Regions from separate parts of the Homo sapiens genome. Here all the other regions are linked to region 3. The links come from fine-mapping of genetic effects on gene expression. A gene starts in region 3. Each other region holds a variant in brackets. All regions are shown on one strand. Distances are between the middles of the regions.

Region 1 (6,880 bases), 50 kb before region 3:
GCCCCCTGCCACCCGCCCCTGCCCCCCGCCAGCTCTGTGCTCATGCTCAGCTGAGTCTGTGATATTCAAAGTTCGTGTTGCCTATTACTGTTAATGAGGGAAAGAAGTCTGGCTAGAACTGTTCTCCCTGGTCACAGCCTGCTGTTGACCTCCCTTAATGAATGCCAGCTGTAGCTCCAGTCAGCTATCCTGAGAATCCCCTGGGACACAGGATGTACTTTTTTTTACCTCTGTTTCTCCCACGGGGTTGGTGGGGAGGGGGCTTCCTACTCTAGTCAGCTGCCAAACGCCCCCTTTCTATGATCTCTTTTCCCCCCTTAAGTTTAAATGACCTCTTCTGCAGCATTTTATTGATTTCACATTCCTCCACCTTCATTATTTGCTTTGAGCCTCATGGCATGCTTGAGAGGTGGGCAGGGCGGGCGTGATTGTTCCCTTTTATAGTCTAGGAAATACAGCCCAGCTGATAGGTGTCCAAGGTTAGAGAGGCCAACTGTTCCTTCCACTGGTCACGAGCAGCCCGTCCCAGCCTCAGATGACCTCTCCCTTTCCGTCCACCTGTGACACTCAAGAACACCCAGGGCTGCCTCCCATTGTACCTATTTAAGAACTTCTTCTTGGCCAGGCGTGGTGGCTCACACCTGTAATCTCAGCGCTTTGGGAGGCCGAGGCGGGTGGATCACCTGAGGTCAGTTCAAGACCAGCCTGGCCAACATGGTGAAACCCCGTCTCTACTAAAAATACAAAATTAGCCTGGTGTGGTGGTACACGCCTGTAGTCCTAGCTACTTGGGAGGCTGACACAGGAGAATCACTTGAACCTGGGAGGTGGAGGTTGTAGTGAGCCGAGATCGCACCACTGCACTCCAACCTGAGTGAGACAGAGCGAGACTCCATCTCCAAAAAAACAAAACAAAACAAACTTATTTCCCTAAGTGAATTGTGAAGGCACTGAAGGCAGGGACTGTTGCTCGCACACATCTCTTGCCTGCCAAAGCACCAGAAGGGTACAACAACGAGGACTAACATTTACTAAGCAACATGCCAGGCACTTTCACATACATTATCTTTTCATTCCTCAAGTAATCTGTGAAGTGGGAACTATGATCACTCATCTTACAGAGGAGGACACAAGTTCAGAAGCTAAGGGACCTATCTGAGGTCACGCTGCTAGTAAGCTGAGCACCACAAATGAGTGCCTCAGAAGGCAAGATCCCCAGATGGAGATCTAGAAAGAAACTGGACCCAGTTTTAGAAAGAAGTGGTCCAGGCCGCACGAGCAGGGTTGTTCTCACCTCAGCAAGACGCACTCTGCTCCAGGAAATGACGATAAGGGGTGGAGAGATCAGGGTGAGGTTAAATAAAGGTCTTGTACTATTGACCCTGGAGAGGCCTCTGCTGGTTGGCAGTATCTTCTGGGGCATGAGCTCAGAATGAAACACTAGCTCAACTGCAGGGCATTCCCGGCTAAAGTGCCTTATGAGTTGCTTCTGGATGAGGGTGGCTGAGTTTGTCCCAGGGCAATCTGCCACTTCTTTGAGGTCCTCTCTCAAAATTCCCTTCACCTTGGCCCTGGAGCCGGGGGGAGGAGCCAGGGTTGTCCCTTCTGGAGAGTTGGAGGGCGGCAGACTCCCAGGAGGGTTGGGCCATGCCTGTGTGGGGAGGAGGCAGATTCCCAGTGGAATCTGATCCCCAGTAAAGGGGAATACTGCTGTCATGATTGGGGCTGAGGGTGGGTCTGTAGTTTAGTCTGCGCTGAGGTTTTCCATCTCAGCATGCCTAGAGATCACCCAAAGAGCTTGTGGAAAGAGCAGCTTCCCAGGCCCCATCCCGAGAGAGTTTGCTTCAGTGGGTTTGGATGAATCGTTAAGCCCTGCAGTGACTCTGACACAGGCAGTCTGCAGACCCCACTTTAAGGAGCACTGCTGACCATGAAACAACCCTTCTCTTCTGAGCAAGGGGAGGGAGCCCCGCAGAGGCTTCTAGGACCCGAGCCCCTCCGAGGAGAGCCATATTCTAATTGCCCTGGGGTTGAACAGCACCAGCCGAGTCCAAGTGAGTCCTGCTCCACTCCAAGCCCAGCACGCAGCACCCTGAGAGCTGATACTTCCCCACCATGCCAGCTCTGTTGTGACACATCTCTCTTCTCCACTCCTTTCTACAGTGGATCCAGCCCTGCCTTGTCAAGTTCTGAATGTTCTGGGAGGCACCAGCGTTTCTATCTCCTGTGCCACTTCACAGATGGCACAACAAAGCCAAGACTCCCTAAGTCATATTATCAAAGTTGCTCTCTCAAGACCTTTAGTTATGCAAGCTTCAAGGTCCTGCCCCTATTCCTGAACCCCTGCTGCATTTGTCTGGATCAGCCCTCCAAGCAGTATTTCTTGCTGTGGCATGCTGTTGTTTTCAAAATGTATTTGTCCTAGGAGTAGGGAGGGGTACATAAGGTAATGGAGGAGACACAGCATCCAGCCCTTCTGCCCATATGCTTGCCTGTCCATCTGTCCACCCGCCATCTACCCGTGTATCCACCCACCCACCACCCACACATCCATCCATCCATTCATCCCTGCAATCAGCAGGTCAGCCCCCATTGTGGGAGGCACGTGGCAGGGGATCTAGAGATAGGATTTCTTTTTCCTCCTCTGAGAGCTTGCCACCTAATGGGCACACTAATAACTACAGAAAAGGCAGATGTCGTCAGTGCCCCAAGAGAGGCGTGTGCGGGCATTAGTTGGCGAGCGAGCCCATGCCAGCCCTTGGTCAGTCTCCAGCAGAGCCTCTTCCCTCATTCCAGCTGAGGCAGGGCTGGAATAGAGGTATTGGATTGTCTCAAGCCCTAGATAAAAATTTCTCCCCTACTTTCTCCAAAGCCAGATGATAAGCATTGCTGTCTGATACCCTGGTCCTGAGTATGCCAGTGTCACTCAGAGGAGAGTCCCTCTTCCCCTGATGTCTTATGTCCAAATGTAAAGCCAGGCCTTGGGGCTAGGGAATAAAGCCTGCACAAGAGGGGAGATGCAACCACAGCAAGGAGGCCCTCCTGCCACAGGGTGCACTGGTGGTCTGGGCCCCCCCGCATCCAGCCCAGGTTGGGGCAAGGCCTGCAGGAGACACTGGCATGTCACATAGAAAAGGAGAAGGTGAGAAGAGTGGTTCATT[G/C]GGCGCAGCAGAGCATTCCTGAGAACACTACTGGACTATCCTCGAGTGCGCGGGCCCTGAGTGGGCTTTCTAGGCAGAGTGGGAAGGCCCCTCCCCTCGGCACGGAGCCCCAGGGGCACCAGATGTGCCAGGATGACTTCTCTTGTTTGTCTCCACCAGGAGCAGCCTGTCAGTCATCAGTCAGGTTGGGAGTCGAGCCCTCAGCCTGGCTGTTCTCCATCAGTGGCTGCCTCCCCAGCCTATCCCCGGTCCCCAAGGGTAAACTCACCATGCCGTCTCTTCCCGGGGAGCTGGAGCGGCTGGGCCCAGGGGCCTGACCCTTTCCCGTCTCCCACAGCGTGTAGCGGCCAATGGGTCGGTAGGTTGGGCTGATGATTTCAGGGACTCGTGAGGGAGGGGCCTGGGAGGGCACCTGAGATGCACTGCCCTTGCGACCATAGTTCTCCAGGTAGTCGACCAGGTATTCAGGGCAGCTGGCTGTCTGGTAGAGCCCCTGCAGGGTGCAGAGCTCCTTGCGCGTCCGGGCCAGCATGGGGCTGCGGCCCAGGTTCCTGGGGTCTATCCGGTAGCTATCTGAGGTCCGGAGGCTGGAGAAATCCCGGGCCAGGTCTGATTGGCTGTCCAGCTTCTGGGTTAGGGTCACCCCCTGGTCATAGGCATTGATGGGCAGGTAGCTGAGGCAGTTGTTGGTCACTCCATAAGGGAATCCGCTGCCCCCGCTGAGGCCACTGCCTAAAGGCCGCTCAGTACCCCGGGTCTGGCTCTCTGCCCGCTTACCACCCCCAGTGATGTCGGGTCTCAGCAGGGGGCGGCCCCGGTCATAGTCCAGGAGGGAGGAGGGGCCATAGGTACGGGGACGGGTGAGGAAGCTGCTGGTGGGGACCGGCTTGAAACCAAGTTTCTCCTTCTCCAGTAAGGAGGCAGCCAGATTGGCCCCATAGGAGGACGGGGTGTAGGCACCATAGCCCGACTTGGCATAGTGGGCATCTGTGTAGCGGGCCGATTCTGTGTAGCGCTTCAGGGTGGAGGAGAGCTGGGACATCCTTCAGGGTGGCACTCAGTGGGGACTGGGAGCCTCATGGGCTGAAAGACAAGGAGTGTAGTTGTCAGAGGGCCCTGCCAGGTGTCGGGCTCCCACAGACCTGCTCCCCATCCTCAGCTGGGCCAGAACCTCAGAGCTCCCAGTCCATTTCCACAAGAGGCAGGCTGGCTGCTGAGAAGCACACATGCACGCAGGTGTGCACAGGAGCTTGCTTGCACCTGTGTGTTCACACCTCGGTGAGAGTGCGAGGGATGAGGTGGCTTTTATATGCCACACAGGAAGTCAGCGCATCCTGGCCATTCAAAGACTCAAACACGCAAGCAGGGGCTATCTGACCTCCACAGCCCACCAAGCCGTGCAGTCTTCCAGGTCAAATCCCATTGCCTCAGCATCTGCAGAAACTCTTGAGCTGGGGGAATGCCACTGACCCCTGGGTTGAGAATGCTGGATATTTCAGGAGTTAAGACCACATCTGTCCCTTCTGACTTATGTGATGAGCAGGTGTCTTTTTGGAATCCTAGACTGTCTGTGCTGGAATGACCTGAAGATCATTTGGTCAGATCCCCTGTGAGGCCAAGGAGGCTCAGGGGAGGAAGTAATGGGGTGTGGGTGGGCAGGGGAGGCCGTGAGTGAGCATGCAACAATGAGGGGCCAGAACGTGGTCTCCAGACCCTTTCCCCAGACACCAGCACCTGCTGCATGGTCCCACAGTGAGGGACACTCACTTCACTGAGCTAAGCTTCTGTTCTAAGTGGAGTTAGGGCCCTGTGGCCTCCTAAGAGTTCCTCTACCAACACAGGCTTCCTCTACAAACACAGATCTCAAATTGGTCCTGGCGATGCTTGTGCAAAGGGGGCCCCCTACAGTCCCAAATCTTGCACTGCAGGTGGCATTCCCAGTCCTTCCCTGCTCCAGTCCTGCAGCTGGGGAGGGTCTAGTGAAGGAACACAGACACTGCTGAATGTGGAGCTTTGAGAGCCCCAGAGGATCATGAATTTTAATCTATCTGTTATACAGATGGGAAAAGTGATGCTTATTTGCCCCCGGCCACACACCAGCAGAGCCAGGACTGGAATCCAGGTCTTTAAAATCCTGGCCAGTGTTCTTTCTACTTAACCTGGAGTTACCTCCCCCGCATCAGATTTAGGGTCAGTTGGGGACCCCCAGAGGCCTTCCATCACCGTAAACGTGCAGCCTGTATCCAATGGAGCTGGAGTGGCAGAGGAGCAAGTAGGGTCAGACGCCTTTCCCCGAGGGCATCAGGGGCTCTTGGGGGGCTTTCTAGGGGGATGGAGCAGAGCCATCCAGGACTCTCAGAGTTGTGGGACTTGCCCTGTGATGGACTAGCTGGGTGATTTTGCACTAGTCACGTAACCTCTCTGAGCCCCAACTTCCTCATCTGTAAATGAGTAAAACCATCATCCTCATAATTCCTACCTCACAGGGCTGTTGTGAGGAATAAATGAGATAACAACACGTGAAGGGCTCCACAATGACAGTGGCTACCATCTCCTCCCCCAGCTACTGCGAGGCAGCATGGCTCCGCCCTCTGAAGGTCTGTGATAATATCAGGGCTGGCTGTCTCCCAGCCTGGCCAGCCTCTGGCCTCAGCTTGGGATGCCAGGCCTCCCCCTGCAGCCCCCAGCGAGAGAAACAGGCAGTGGGCAGACATCTGGCCACTCAGCAGACACTGGCTTGGCAACCCAGCCCATTAGGGCAGAGAGGAGCTGGTGCCAAACCCCAAATGCGAGGGCTTGGCAGAAAGCTCTAGAATCCCAGTCCACACAAGGCTTTGGGGTAGGTACAGGGGTGAGAGATGAGCAGGTGGCTTCCATATAGGCCCGGAACAGCATTCCTTGACCCTGCCTGAGAACTCCAGCAGTTTTCAGTCCAGGCTGACATCAGAAAGGCCTGGTCCATCTTACTGTCTAGCCTTTTGCCACCTGGCCCAGGGGGCCCCTGGCCCTTCATGTACACTCCTTTGCCCACTGTGCCCAGCACAACTTTCACCCCTTTCTAGGAAAAGGTAACTGGGGGATGATGTCACACAGCGTTAGAGGGAAACCATAGCGGGAGAGACAGACAGAGGCACAGGGTCGGGGTGGGGGCCCAGTCCTGCCCTATTTTGCTTTGGAGAACTCCATCAATAATGCAAAGTCAAAGAGACTCCAGGTCTCAGGAGCTGGGCTCTGGGACACCAGGCAGCCAATCAGATACAATCCCCCCAACAAGGGTATGAGCTCATGGCTCCTCCCCACAGCTCTCCCTCTCCCTCCCCCACAGTAAGGCTCTCAGGGAATTGGTATTCTTCGGGCAGCGCCCCAAGCCCGTGACATCCCTTGACCCTGCTGATGACGCAGAAGTGCTGGGGCCAAACGAGGTCCAGAGGACAGGGACAGACAGCTCTGAAAGGCTTTGGAGCCGGAGGTGGGGCCACATCTCTGGCCCACAGATTCCCAGGAGGGCTCCCAAATCCCCACTCTCCCTCCCATCTGGCAGGTGATTGCCAGACCCCTCCGCCTCCTCCTAGCAGCCCTGGGAGTCATGCCATCACTAATACTCCATGGAAGCTGCCTCTCGGCTCTGACTTCTAGCTACAGTTCCCATGCCTGCGGAGAGGGTTCCTACTGGGGCCGGGGCCTTCCACATGTCTCTCCCCTCCCGCAACCCCCAGTTT
Region 2 (6,880 bases), 48 kb after region 3:
TGTCTTTTTGAGGCTATTTTCTATATCTTTTGTGTTTGCTTCATTCTTTTTTATTCTTTTTTCTTTTGTTTCCAATGTGTGTTTTCAAATAGACTGTCTTGAAGCTCACTAATTCTTTCTTCTACTTGATCAGTTCTGCTGTTGAGAGACTCTGATGCATTCTTCAATATGTCAATTGCATTGTTCAGCTCCAGAATTTCTTCTTGATTCTTTTAAGTTATTTCAACCTCTTTGTTAAATTTATCTGATAGTATTCTGAATTCCTTCTCTGTGTTATCTTGGATTTCATTGAGCTTCCTTGAAACAGCAATTTTGAATTCTTTGTCTGAAAGGTCACATATCTCTATTTCTCCAGGATTGGTTCCTGGTGTCTTACTTAGTTCATTTGGTGAGGTCATGTTTTCCTGGATGGTGTTGATGCTCGTGGATGTTTGTCAGTGTCTGGGCATTAAAGAGTTAGGTATTTATTGTAGTCTTCACAGTCTGTACTTGTTTGTACCCATCCTTCTTGGACAGGCTTTCCAAATATTCAGAGGGATTGTATGTTGTGATCTAAGTCTTTGGTCACTGCTGCCATATCTGCTTTAAAGGGCACCCCAAGCCCAATAATGCTGTAGCTCTTGCACTAGTAGAAGTACTGCCTTAGTGATCTTGGGTAAGATCCAGAAGAATTCCCTGGATTACCAGGCAGAGACTCTTGTTCTCTTCCCTTACTTTCCCCCAAACAAACAGAGTCTCTATCTCTGTGCTGAGCTCCCTGGAGCTGAGAGAGGGGTGACACAAGTACCCCTTTAGCCACCACCACTGGGACTGCACTGGGTCAGACCCAAAGCCTGGACAGCAACTGAGTCTCACCCAAGGCATGCATTGACCACTGCCTGGCTACCACCTATGTTCACTGAAGGCCCAAGAATCCCTACAGTTAGCAGGTGGCATATTGAGCCAGGCTTATGTCCTTTCCTTCAGGGCAGTGAGTCCTCCTGGCCCCAGGGGGGTCCAGAGATGCCATCCAGGAGCCAGGGCTGGAGTCAGGAACCTTAGGAATCTACCTGATGCTCTATTCAACTGTGGCTGAGCTGGCACCCAAGCCACAAGACAGAGAATCCTTCCCACTCTTCCCTCCCCTTTCCTCAAGTACAGGGGTCTCTCCCCGTAACCACTGCCACCCCAGGCCTGTGGTAAATAGTGCCTGGCTATGTTCAGTCGAGGCCCAGGCTTCTTCATTCAGCTTGTGGTGAATGCTGCCTGTTCCTAGTCCCTCCCTTCCAGGCAGCAGGCTTCCCTCTGGCCCAGAGCAGGTCCAGAAATGCCATCAAGGAGCCACAGTCTAGAACTGGGGACCCAGGAGCCCATTTGATGCTGTACCCTACTTGGGCCTAGCTGGTACCAGGTTCTTAGGATTTTTGTTCTTATTAAGGTGCTTTTCTGTGTGGACAGTTGTTTAATTTGGTGTTCCTGCAGGGGGACGAACGCTGGAGGCTTCTATTCAGCCATCTTGCTCTGCCTCCCCTCATTGTCTTTTCTTGTCTTTTTCTTTTTTTCTGAGATGTGGTCTTACTCTGTCACCCAGACAGGAGTGTAGTGGTGTGATCACAGCTCACTGCAGCCTCCACCTCCTGGGCTCAAGTGATCCTCCCATCTCAGCCCACCAAGCAGCTGGGATCACAGGTGTGTGCCACCATGCCTGACTAAGTTTTTGTGTGTGTGTGTGTGTGGAGATGAGGTCTTGCCATGTTGCCCAGGCTGGTCTCATACTTCTGGGCTCAAGTGATCCTCCCACCTTGGCCTCCCAAAGTGTTGGGATTATAGGTGTAAGCCACTGTGCCTGGGTCCATTGTGCCTTTCAATGACATATTTTAAAAAGTTTCCTGGCAGGTCCTTGGTTAAGGCTTCCTTCCGGGAGTTGCTCTTTCCATAAATCATGGTAAGGAGGTTGTGCCCTCAGAAGCTGAGCCCACCCCGGCCCTCCTGGGCATGTGGAGAGCAAAGCCTCCTCTGCTGAGGAGTGAAGCCAGTTCCCTCAGGGCTGAGGGAGGACTGGAGAGATGCATGTTTTAGAGCAAGGGCGTAGTCTGTCCCTTTGGGCTTCTCAGAAGGCCATGATCACAGTGGCTGTTTTCTGGCCCCTGGGTCTCCCCTTGAGCTGAGGAGGAGATATGTCCACCTGGTTAGGCTTGGAGATTCATGGCTTGGTCCTTGGATTTTTGAGGGTCTTATTTATTTTCTCAGGCCAAGTTCCCACCTGGTGGGAAGCACTGTGCAGGTTCGTGGGGATGCAGCCCTGCACAGCCCAGACTGGACTCCTTCCCCATGGAACTCACAACACACGGGAGAGGCAGAGAGATCCAAGCGCACAGAAAAACACAAGAAGATTCAGCCCTGTCATCTTGTGCAAAGTGAGTTCCACATAATTCAATTATAAAATGAGAGATTGTGTTTCTGTGAGCTTCATAAAAATGAATTATTTCTCTGTCACAAAAAGTAAAGACAGTACAAACGACACTGTGCATCATAGTCCTTACACTGAATTGAGAACATCTCAAATGGTCCTGAGGCCACCAGTTTCTGGACACCGCATCTCCTCTCCGAAGACATGAGCTAGGGCTTTGCGTCATCTAGACCAGGACTGGATGCTGGCTATGGGAACAGCATGTGCAAAGGCCTGGAGCCCCATCTGTGTCTAGCCTGATGGGTGCCAGATGAGGAAGCCAGGACCACGAGCATCTCCTGGGCAAGGCTGCTCTTCCCGGGTAGCCCCAGCACCCAGCCTGGTGTCAACACACAGTAGGGCTCACAGGTATTTCCAGACTGATGGAAGCTCTAAGGGGAGGTGCTCAGGGCCCAGGAGGCAGGG[C/T]TGGCCTGGGAAACATCACTGCACTCCTTCCTGGCAGCATCTTCCTTTGTGCCTTGGCAGATGTTCCAGGAAAGCTGGCCCACGCCCTTCCCGCAAGCCTTAAGACGGCTGCCTTTTGCCTGCATTTAAATGCAGTGTACCAAATGTCAGTTGGCCACTGACTCATAAGCTTTCTGAGGCCACACATGCCTTTGAAATGCTTCAGAGAGCACTTCTTACAGAAAATCCATATACTGCACCCACCCAATTAGATATGGAGTGTTCTGGGGTCCTCTCCGCTGGCCTGCCTGCGAGGCGGCCCATTTGTAGAGCTCAGAGACCCCGGCTCCCACCCCGCCTGGCCCCTCTCCCTCCAGACTCTCTGATGCCTGCAGCGTCAGGTGTCCCAGCCTCCCCTGGGAGATCTCCTGACCAGGCTCTGCCTCTCTCCTGTGCCCACAGCTGGGCCGGGGACAGCCTGTTCCCAGCAGACAGTCAGACCAGCCCCACTTGGTAACTCAGACTCCTAGACCCCAAACCTGAGGGGCTGCTGTGATGGCCCCCCCAATAGCTCTCCCTGTCCCTCCCTGGCTCTTCCTCCTCTGAGAGGCCTGGGAAGGTTCAGAGGCTCCAGATGCTGGAACACCCGTTTCCCTGCAGAGGCTCAGCCAGCCTCGCTCTTCCCTTCTCTGTGATCCCTGTGGTCCCACCCAGCTTGCTGGCTTCTAGTGAGCCAGCCCCGCTCTCCCCTTCTCTGTAATCCCTGTTGTCCCACCCAGCTTGCTGGCTTCTAATGTCACGAATGCCTCTGCTTTCACTCCATCTCCCACCTTTGCTTTCTAGTCTGCACTGATCATGACATTTCCACCATCTCTTGCTAGAACCCTGGACTCCCTTACCCCTCTGCCTTGCTCCTGCCCGGTGAACCCCTAGCCCTAGATGGCCCCAAGACAGTGTCCTCCCCAGCAACAAGTCTAGCTGTTCTCCCTGCACTTCCCTCCCCGTCCGCTGTGCTCCCATGTCCCCTTTCCTCCCTCACTCCCAGGCTGTCTTCCATTTCCCAGGGACTAAGGGAGGTGAGAGGGACAGTGGCACTCTGAAAAAAGATCAGAGGCAGCAGGGGGCCGGGGGAGGAAGAGACTCTGAAAGTGAGCAGTACTCAGCCATACCCAGCAGGACTCAGGGTACTCAGTTGTATTCAGCAGGACTCAGGGTGCCCAGCACACCCAGCAGGTCTCAGGGTTCTCGGCTGTACCCAGCAGGTCTCAGGGTTCTCGGCTGTACCCAGCAGGTCTCGGGGTTCTCGGCTGTACCAAGCAGGTCTCAAGGTTCTCGGCTGTACCAAGCTGGTCTCAGGTTTCTTGGCTGTACCCGGCAGGTCTCAGGTGCCCGGGTGTACCCGGCAGGACTCAGGGCACCCAGCCATACCCGGCGGTACTTTAGAAATACTCAGTAGTACTTAGGGTGCTCTAGTGTGGACTTTGTCCCTCCAGTGCCTTGGGCTGAATTGGGTCCTCACAAAATTCACATATTGAAGTCCCAACCCCTAGCCAGGACATCAGAATATGATTGTACAGTTAACCCTTGAACAACAAGGGGTCAAGGGCACCGACCCCCTCGTAGCCAAGACTCACATATGACTTTTGACTCCCCCCAAACTTAACTACAAATAGCCTACTGTCGCCTGGAAGCCTTACCAATGACAAACAGTTGAACACATATTATGTATGGTATATGTATTATGTACTGTATTCCTACAACAAAGTAAGCTAAAGAAAATGTTATTAAAAGAAACAAAAGGAAGAGAAAATCTATGTATTAGTCATTAAGTGGAAGTAGATCCTCATCAAGGTCTCCATCCTCCCTGTCTTCATGCTGAGTAGGCTGTGGAGGGGGTGGTGGGGGTGGGTCTTGCTGTCTCAGAGGCAGAAGAAAATCCGCATGTAAGTGGACTCACAAAGTTCAAACACATGTTGTTTCATAATCGCCTGTATTTGCAGACAGGGCCTTTACCGAGGTAATTAGGTTACCATGAGGTCATATGGGTGGGCCTTAATCCAATATGACCAGTGTTCTTATGAGAAGAGGAAACGAGGGCATAGATTTGCACAGAGGAAAGTCTGGGTGAAGGCGCAGGGGAAGGCGCTTCTGCAAGGCAAGGAGAGAGGCCTCAGAAGAAACCAGTCGCGAGGATGCCTTGATGTCAGACTTAACTTCCAGCCTCCAGAACTGTGAGGACATTTTTGCTGAGGCCTCCCAGTCAGTGGTGCTGTGAGCTGGAAGAAACCTTGGAGGTCATCTCATGATCCATCCACTTCTGTTTACTGATGGGCAGATGAGGCCAAGAGCAGGAGTGCAGGGCCACAAAACGAGTCAAAGACAGCGCTCCCAGGCCAAGGATGGCTTCTTAGCCTGGCAGATGCCAGGACTGAGGTGCTGGAACAAGAGAAGCTGGGGGAGAGACAGGTGGGGTGCAGGTGGGAGGAGGGGGCACCCTGTCCTGGGGCAGGGCAGGTACAGTGTGCTCAGGGGAGGAGGAATCTGAGGGAGCGCAGTTCGAGCTGCCCACGTGTGCGTGTGTGCGTGTGCGCGTGCACAAGTGCGTGCTGGTGGTGTCGGGAGGGAAGGCAGGGAACAAGCGTTGTCTCTGCCTCCAGGAAGATGTGGTTGGCGGGGGTGGAAAGTGGCCTCTGGAGGTTTGACCAAGTTGCCTCCGGTGGCTCGTGTCTGTAATCCCAGCACTTTGGGAGGCCGAGGTGGGAGGATTGCTTGAGCCCAGGAGTTCAAGACCAGACTGAGCAATATAATGAGACCCTGCCTCTACAAAAAAATTAAAAATTAGCCAAGTGTTGTGGCACACGCCTGTGGTCTCAACTACCCGGAAGGCTGAGGTGGGAGGATTGCTTGAACTTTGGAAGTGGAAGGAGGTTGCAGTGAGCCGAGATGGCGCCACTGCATTCCAGCCTGGGTGACGAGCCTGTACTTCAGCCTGCACTCCAGCCTGGGCAAGACCCGACCCCCCACCCCTGCCAAAAAAAAGACTACTCTGGCTGCAGTGTGGAGGGCACCAGTAAAAACAGAGCAGCACCACTCTCAGCCTCATCTCATCTCCCTGAGCCACACTTCACATGGAGGCGAAGGGTGATGGCAGCATGGCTCAGGGAGGTGAGATGGCGCTGAGTGGTGCTAGGATCCGAGATCCAGGGTGAGGGCAGAGTGAGCAGGAGGGGGAGGCTGATTGAATTGGGTGCAGTGGAGGCTGGTGAGGGCCACTGACAGCAGGTGGATGGACTAGTCTGGAACCCAGAAGAAAGATCTGGGCAAGGACTTAATTTGAGAATTAAGGCTAGGTTATAGGAGCAGATGTGGCTAAGGGAATACATGCAGAGGAAAAAGAGAAGAGGCCTGAAATGGAACCCCTAGAAACACCTACATTTATAGGATAGCCTTTAGAGAAGGAGCCTCTCTGAGTTTTCTCATCTGTAAAGTGGGTATAACTATGCAGGCCGTTGTAAGGATTAGAGAAGCTGATGTATATAGTGTTGGTGCTCCATTGATGGGACAGTCACATGCCACTGAACGTCAGGGACACATTCTGAGAAATGCATTATAAGACTGTTTCGTCATTGTGGGGACATCGTAGACTGTGTTCACACAAGCCTAGGTGGTACAGCCTGCTTCGCACCTAGGCCACATGATAGAGCCTGTTGTTTCTAGGATACACACCTGTACAGCATGTGACTGTACTGAACAGTGTAGGTGACTGTAACACAATGGCAAATATTTGGGCATCTAAACACAGAAAAGGTAGAGCAAAAATACGGTATTATAATCTGATGAGATCACCACCCTATGATGTGCACGACTGGGTTTGTAACTATGACATGGTCCGCATCGCTCTTCCTCCTGTGCTACATTGTCTGTTCCAGAGCTATAGCCTGAGGACTGGGCTTCATTGCTGAATGCAGTCCTGTATCCAGACATTTGGTTCTGTTAATGCAGCCCAAAGCTGCACTTGGCTGCTGCTGAGCATGGGGTCAGCCAAGA
Region 3 (6,880 bases):
TACTGATCTCTTGCACACATATCATCTTATGAAAACCTTACTAAACATCATGACAAGAAAACTGGCTGAGGGAGGTGGTGTCATCCCTGTTTTCCCGCTGGGAGAAGGAAGATTAGGGAGGCCAAAGGCCTTGCCCACAGTTCTGGTGGAACCACACTGCTCTGCCTGTCTGGCCCTGAGCTCTTCACCCCATTCACACCGAAGGCAATGGTTCCCCAGTTGACCAGGCAGCAGTTGGGAGAGGGTGAGAGCGTTATGGGGCTATTCTCCTCTCTAGTCCAGCCAAGGGAACTGCCTGCTGTCCCCGAGCCTGGCTCTCCCAGCTCACTTGACCTTGTTAGGGGCTTGTCTCACCTCTGAGCACTGTGACGTTCTGGGAGGAGATGGGTGGGGAATGGCCAGAGTGGTGGAGTGCACACGTGTAGGTGCCCTCGTCCTTGCTAGTGAAGGCGGATAAGTAGAGGACCTTCATGTTGTATTTGCTGGTGAAGTTGGTTCGGGAGCGGTATGTGTGCTCAGGCACCCCCACAGTGCCAAAGAGCACGTGCTTCTTTGTCTCACGGGTCAGGCTGAACTCGTACTGGATGGGTGAACTGCTGGTATTCTCATGGCGGCAGTCCAGACGAAGGCTCTGGTCCACTAGGCAGGCCGTTAGGCTGGTCACCTTCTGCCCTCGGGAGACCTGCAAGACTGGCACCAGCAGTGCCTCCTTCAAACTGGAGGGGCCTGCGGCACAGGGGCCTCCCACCCACCTGAAGTGGAGAGATGGGCCTGGCTAGGGAGGGGACCGGGGTCTGCTCTCTGAGTGCCTTTCCCCACCCCAGGGATCCCACTTCTCCTTTGCAGACCCCAGCCTCCCTCCCCACTCTGCTTGAGCCTTGGATCCTATCAATGTGTTTCAAGGACAGGAGATCTTAGGGAGTTGATGCTGGTTCCGGGTTCTCAGTTGGGGATTCTAGTTCAATAGTGTGAAGGAGGGCTCAGCAAACTGTGTTTTCAAAAACCACCTCAGGCCGTCAGAATATCAGCGCGGTGGATTGGCTGACTTCAGGATGAAAAAGAGCCCTCTCTTTGTCACCTGCGCTTTTCTGAGACTGTGAGGGAGAAGCTGCTTCTCTGGAGGGAAGGAAGCCAGGGCGCCTGGAGCCCCAGTCCTGCCCCATGCCGGGTACCTGTTAGCAGGAGAGCGATGCTGATGGCCAGGTTCATGGTTCTGGGATCTCAGTCCTGGATCTGGGGTGGGAACAGGATGGGAATCAGCCAAGCTGTGCCACACTTACCACCAGGGCTGGGGGTCCCTGGGAACATGGCATAGTGGCTATGGCAGTCATCTAAGTCCCTCTCTCCATTCCCCCTCTCGTCCCTGCATCTCACTGAACATGATACTGCCACTGGCTCTTTCCTGCTCAGGGAAAGCAAGGAAGGAGGGAGAACAAGCCCAGTCACGGTGTGTTTCTGCGCTTGGCCATGGAGCACTTACTAGCTGGGTGACTTTAAGTAACTTTACCACTCTTTCTCCTCTTCTTACATTAACATAGTGTATGGTAATATAAGACCTATGAGGGCTGAGGCTTCGTATTTAAAAAAAAAATTTAATCGTGGTAAAATACAAAAAGCATAATAATTACTATTTTAACCATTTAAATTCAGTACTTAAATTCAGTATATTCAGCAGTGCTGGATACATTCACGTTGCTATGCAGCCCATCTCCGGAACTCTTTTTGTCTTTCAAAGTAAAACTCTGTATCTGTTAAACAAAGACTCCCCATTTAGGGACTTCCCATTTCCTGTTCAGAAGAAAATCCCCAATGCTCAAAACCGTTTCCGTTTGCAGATTACTGGCATATAGCATACACTCCAAAGATATTTATTGTGAATGAATGAATGAATCTCTCTGAATCTTACATACCCACCGGGTTATGATGGGGGTTAAGAAAAACAACCAACATCTGGCGATGACTGCTTCATATACGTGAGACACAAATCCCTAAGTCACTCGCCATCCCCAGTGGATGGCTAGATACCATTCACCATAGCTAAGGATGCTCCCAGATAGGGAGCATCTATTCCTATCTGGATAGGACACAAGCTAATCGTGTTCCTGGAGGAGAGAAAGACATAGTGATCTCCGATTGTATGTGAGCCAAGGATGCTTCCCAATGTCCAGCTCTCTGGAGTTCCTGGGACTGCAGTTTTCCAGCCCAGTTTCAATAGCCACCCTGGATAGGCTGTCTGCCTGGTCTTTTTTTGTTTTTTGCAGCCTTGGCTGAACCAACCCTTGGCGAGGCGACGCGGAGCCGGTAGTCTAGCCTATCTGCAGAGCAGTGCTCGCCCAGGAGAGGCCACAGAAGGGGCGTGCACCCGCGAGAGCGCGCAGGGCATTGCCTCGGTTGAGTGCGCCCGGGTGCGCAGGGCGCACCACTAGACGAGTTCAGGGTCCCTGGCGCTCAGCCCCTTGACGGGTGAGGCTAGGATCCCGCGGCGGCTGCAGCTACAATCAATGCTCTCTCTGTCCCGGGGTGGAGCTGCTGCCCTGAGCCAGATCCAGGAGGAAGGGGGGTCGGCATCTGGCTTTTGAATCGAGGACTCTTGTTTGAGATGTTGTGCGGGCTTGGGATCTAGGAGGGGAAGGGGGAGCAATGGCCAGAGCAAGAAAGGGAAGAAATGGGTCTGGGGCTGGAGAGGGTAGAAGAGCCAGGGGAGGGGTGGAGAGCGGCTGGGGAGGTGCAGTCTGTATTCATTTCCTCTGGTCTGTGTCCTCAGGCGGCTCCAGACCCAGAGAAGGTCTGCTCTTCCTCCCTCTCAAGCCCCCGGCGGGCCTCATCCTTAATCCATTTCCGTATTCCAATCCTCTCCTTTCCCAAATGAGTCCCCCTTCCCCCTCTCTCATCCTTTTCCAGCTCTCCCCTCCCCCGTCCGCCCGCCTTCCACCCAGTCCCCGCCTGCGGCACTGCGGCTTCCTTCTCCTCCGGTGCCCCGCACCCAGCCCGCCGCGAGGTCACCCGGCAGATTCCCTCTAGCTCGCCATCCTCCATCCTCTCCCCGCAGTTTCATCCGTCCTCCTCCCCGCCTCTGCGAGCTGGGTTTGGGGACGTCTGGGTGGAATGTAGACCCACAGGCTGTCCTTGGTGCCCTTCCTCCCTGTTCTCCAGCGCCCCAGCCCCAGACACCAGTCCCCCAGCGGGCGAAAGCCCGGGAGCGCCTTCCCCGAAAGACATCAGGGTGCCACGCGGCCCCTGCCCTGCAGAAGCATCCCCCTCCCGCCCCTGCCTGGAAAGCAGGCCCCTCCCTAAGCTCTGCGCCCTTCTTCCCTGGGCGCCCTCGGACCGTGGCCCGAAGCCTAGTGTTGGGAAGTCTTGCATGGGCGCCTGACGGCGGTCCCCGAGCCCCAGGTCCCACCGGCTCCAGTTCCCACCTGGACTGGGGTCTTCCGCTGCTGCAGCCTCCTCCAGACGCGCCGCCGCCTCCGGTTGCTGCACCCAGCTCGGAGCCCGCAGTTTTCACCGGGGATGGAGGAGAGGGGGAGCGGGGAGCCGGGGGCTCAGCCAATCAGAGGCGGAGATTGGGGGAGAAAGGACGGCAGGGTGGGGTGGGGGGTGGGGAAGGAAGAGAAGGCGGTCCCGCATTGGTGTGAGAGTGGCAGGTTGCGGCGGAAGGGGGCCCTCACCCTGTGGCTGGCAGGCCTGGCCAGGGACGGGAGGGTTCGGGACCCCGGGGATCAGGGTGCGGCAGCCCAAAGAACATTATCCTCCTCCCTGAGCCCCGCAATGGTTGTTCCCCTTTTAAGGCTTTAACCCTTTCTTCTGACCTATTCTTCAGGAGTCTGTGGGAAAACCAAAGTGTAAGAGGTGCAGGATGCAGGCCGGGAGCGCCCACGCCTCCACATTTCCTTTTCAGCTGGAGCCCACCTCCTCCGGAGCCTCCAGTGAGAAGTTTTGGAATATTCCAGTCTTTCTGAAAGGAAGCTGGTTGGGTGTTTTTCAGTGTTGGAGCAGCCCTTCGGAAGCGAGGCAGGTGCTGGACCCACCCTGTCCGTCCCTGGTCCCCAGCCCCATTTCGCCCCCTCATCTATTCCAGAGCACCCAGCCCTTCAGGGGGCTGCAGGCGCTTTTTGCTCTGGGCATTACGTCTTCTTCAGCCCCTGGGCTGGCACCTTCTGGTCCAGACAGCTGGAAGGTTCTTCTGGCTTTCCTGAGTACAGTCTGCTTGTTTGGTCTTCAGACCAGGAAGGGAGTGTTGCCTTTTAGCAGGCACTGTGCTGGGCACATTACATTCATGGCGACCTTTAACCCATGGCCGCCTGCTGGGTTCATCCCATCTCAATCCTCACCTCCTGTCTTGGCTGGTAAGTGGGAGAGCTGGAGAACTGACCTGGGCTATGGACCCCAGCTCTCAAGGGTGAGCCATTCCTCTTGCTCATCCCTGCCTAGTGGGAGAAGAGAGAGAGGAACTCTGGGAAAGAGGAGGAGACAGCACAAAAAGGACTGAGTCGAGGCCAACTCCTGATCACCTGGGGCACTCCTGATAACCCACCGATTGGATGTCACCAGAAGCCCTAGGCTCATTTTTAGAGACAGTGCTGATGACTTTCTCTCACTCACAGGTGTAGTGAATTTTTTTGAACTAACGTTTATTTGATTGATTTGTATCCTGCCAGCCTCTTTATGAATTCTGATCACGACATTCTGTGGGCCTCCCCAATGTCTGCCTGCCTGTTCTCCTATTTCTTCATGGAAGTCAGCCCTGGCACCTTCCCTGCAGTTTCTGATACTGCAGTGGCACTGTTGGAAGCCACTGTTGGAAGCTTGCAAGTGGGAGGAGATTCGCTTGGTTTCCCAGCATTTAGGGTGATGGAACACTCTAACTGGAATGAGCCTTGCAGATGGTTAAGTCCAAAGGAGCTATTCACTTTGGTAAACTGCAGAGGTTTCTAGGGCATTTTATGAAAAATGCAGCTGGCCTTGCCCACCTAGGACCTCCTTAATCTAGTACTAGAGCCAGCTGAGTCTGCACTTTTCTCACGCTCCCCAGGATCTGGGGACTCTAACACATGATCTGGTAAGACTGTCCCTCTTCATAGGTGAGCTAACCTGGCTTCTTGTTTGTAGGATACTTTTTAAGGCCATGAATGTCCTGGCCCCTGGCTGCTGACTTCCCTCCTCCCTCCAACTCCATCCCAGCCATCTTCCCATTCATCTACCTGATGCATTCCAGACACACTGGCTCTGGCTTCTGTCTGCCTCTTCATGGCAGCGCACTCCTTCCTGCTTAACAGCTTTCTGATTCTGAGTCCAGGGATCTTAACTGCAGAAGGCATCTGGGCTCTGCTGGCTGAGGCCCTGGATGCTCCGTTTCCCACTCTTTGGCCCTGTCTCTGAGTGTTGCTGGGTGGAAGGCCTAGCAGTGCTATTTTGATAAGGTTATGAGGACCTGGCCTAATTTCTGGGTCCCCAAGCACCTTGCTTTTAGGCAGGGGAGGGGAGTATAGACTGTAGAAGGTGTGGCAATTCTGTGTCTGCCAAGCAAGATCTCTGATTGGATGGAATTAATGGCTCTGATTAGACATCTGAGGTCAGGGGATAGAGCACAAGGTGGTGGAGGGAGGAGATTTTAAAACTCCATTTACTGTGGATAGGATCGGAGTGCTGAAACCAGCAAGGCTTTAGAGGAATCCAGCTAAGGCAAGACTTCCTGCCAGAAGACTGCGGCTGCCCTGTTGGTCTCTTAGATCTCTCTTTTCCCACCATCTCCTGTTTTCCCACCCAGAAACATATGGGGATAAAAACTCTTCTAAAAACACACAGTCCTTTAGCATGACCTAGGGACTGCCAGCCATTCCCTCATTTCATCAGATTGTCTTTCTAGAATCACAGAGGTGACTACAGTGGTCCCATCTTTTAAATTTTATTTTATTTTATTTTTGAGCCAGGGTCTCACTCTGTTGCCTAGGCTAGAGTGCAGTGGTGCAATCACCACTCACTGAAGCTTTGACCTCCTGGGCTCAAGTGATCCTCCTACCTCAGCCTCCTGAGTAGCTGGGACAATAGGCACTTGACACTATGCCCAGCTAATTAATTTTTTTTTTTTTTTTTTGTAGAGATGGGATCTCACCATGTTGCCCAGGCTGATCTTGAACTCCTGGGCTCAAGTAATCCTCCCGCCTGGCCTCTCAAAATGCTGGGATTACAGGTGGGAGCCACTGCACCTGGCTTGCCCCACTATTTTATAGCTGGGACTTGAGGCCCGAGAAAGGTAATGATTTGTCAAGGTCAGACAAATATTTTGAAGCATGGTCTGGACTATTAGATCTTAAGTCTCCTGACTCCATGTTCCCACTGTGCTCTCCAGTGCTCCCAGGGCGGACCCTCAGATCTCTGCTAGACTCATTTCCCTGGTTCACGGTGAAATAAGTAAAACGAGGACAGTCCGGGGTACTCTGAACATAGCTGTCAGGTTATCACCTTGTTTTGATTTTATGTTCTTCACCCTGTTGATGAGGGAGAGATTCCCATCCCCTAAAGTTAGGGGGATCACATGACCTCAACACTGGACGAATGAGAGCAATAGCAGTTTATTAGTCACATATGCTCATACCTGGGAGGATAACACTGCACGCCATGAACTGCTTCATGGGAGTTGCACTCAGAAACAGGTATTACCAGGAGCTGTGGGAGGCAGGCTTTGTAATGTCAAAACGGTGGAATGCCCCCGTTTCCTGTAAGAGAATGTGATTGGCTGTTTGCATAATTCTGTGGGCTGGCAGGGTGCTGAAGCCCAGTACTCAGGGTTAAGCAGAAATTGTGCCTGGCCCCCACAATAAGGAGGGTGGTTTGGCTGGGGGACCTCATCAGCAAAGTAGGGAGGGGATCTTGTAATTAG

Which allele goes with the higher level. Alleles are on the strand shown, and positions count from the first base shown. SD is a standard deviation of normalised expression in the study named. Not every link is listed here.
As copies of T replace C in region 2, the expression in gastroesophageal junction of the gene that starts at base 3,476 in region 3 goes down (small effect, 0.18 SD a copy in GTEx).

What was found. PIP is the estimated chance that this variant, and not a neighbour inherited with it, causes the effect.
Region 1: its variant is the best candidate, but not a certain one, in a credible set for the expression of THY1 in atrial appendage (GTEx, PIP 0.68).
Region 2: its variant is the best candidate, but not a certain one, in a credible set for the expression of THY1 in gastroesophageal junction (GTEx, PIP 0.82).

Annotation. Positions count from the first base shown.
Region 1 is chr11:119,369,278-119,376,157 of GRCh38, forward strand. It overlaps USP2 (ubiquitin specific peptidase 2), which reads right to left. Exons shown (of 13, transcript NM_004205.5): 2 at 3,430-4,244. The coding sequence starts at 4,203. Among named protein-coding and RNA genes, the nearest start is that of USP2, 9.0 kb to the right of the region's middle. RefSeq lists enhancers at 1-94, 3,683-4,183. The variant G/C (reference allele first, on the strand shown) is at 3,162.
Region 2 is chr11:119,467,580-119,474,459 of GRCh38, forward strand. It overlaps USP2-AS1 (USP2 antisense RNA 1), which reads left to right. Exons shown (of 4, transcript NR_034160.1): 3 at 2,230-2,396. Among named protein-coding and RNA genes, the nearest start is that of THY1, 48 kb to the left of the region's middle. RefSeq lists an enhancer at 5,839-6,339. The variant C/T (reference allele first, on the strand shown) is at 2,855.
Region 3 is chr11:119,419,697-119,426,576 of GRCh38, forward strand. It overlaps THY1 (Thy-1 cell surface antigen), which reads right to left and starts at 3,476. Exons shown (of 4, transcript NM_006288.5): 1 at 3,417-3,476; 2 at 1,173-1,233; 3 at 355-690. The coding sequence starts at 1,209. The region is part of intron 2 of USP2-AS1 (USP2 antisense RNA 1); the gene reads left to right. RefSeq lists enhancers at 1-522, 2,222-2,788, 2,789-3,354.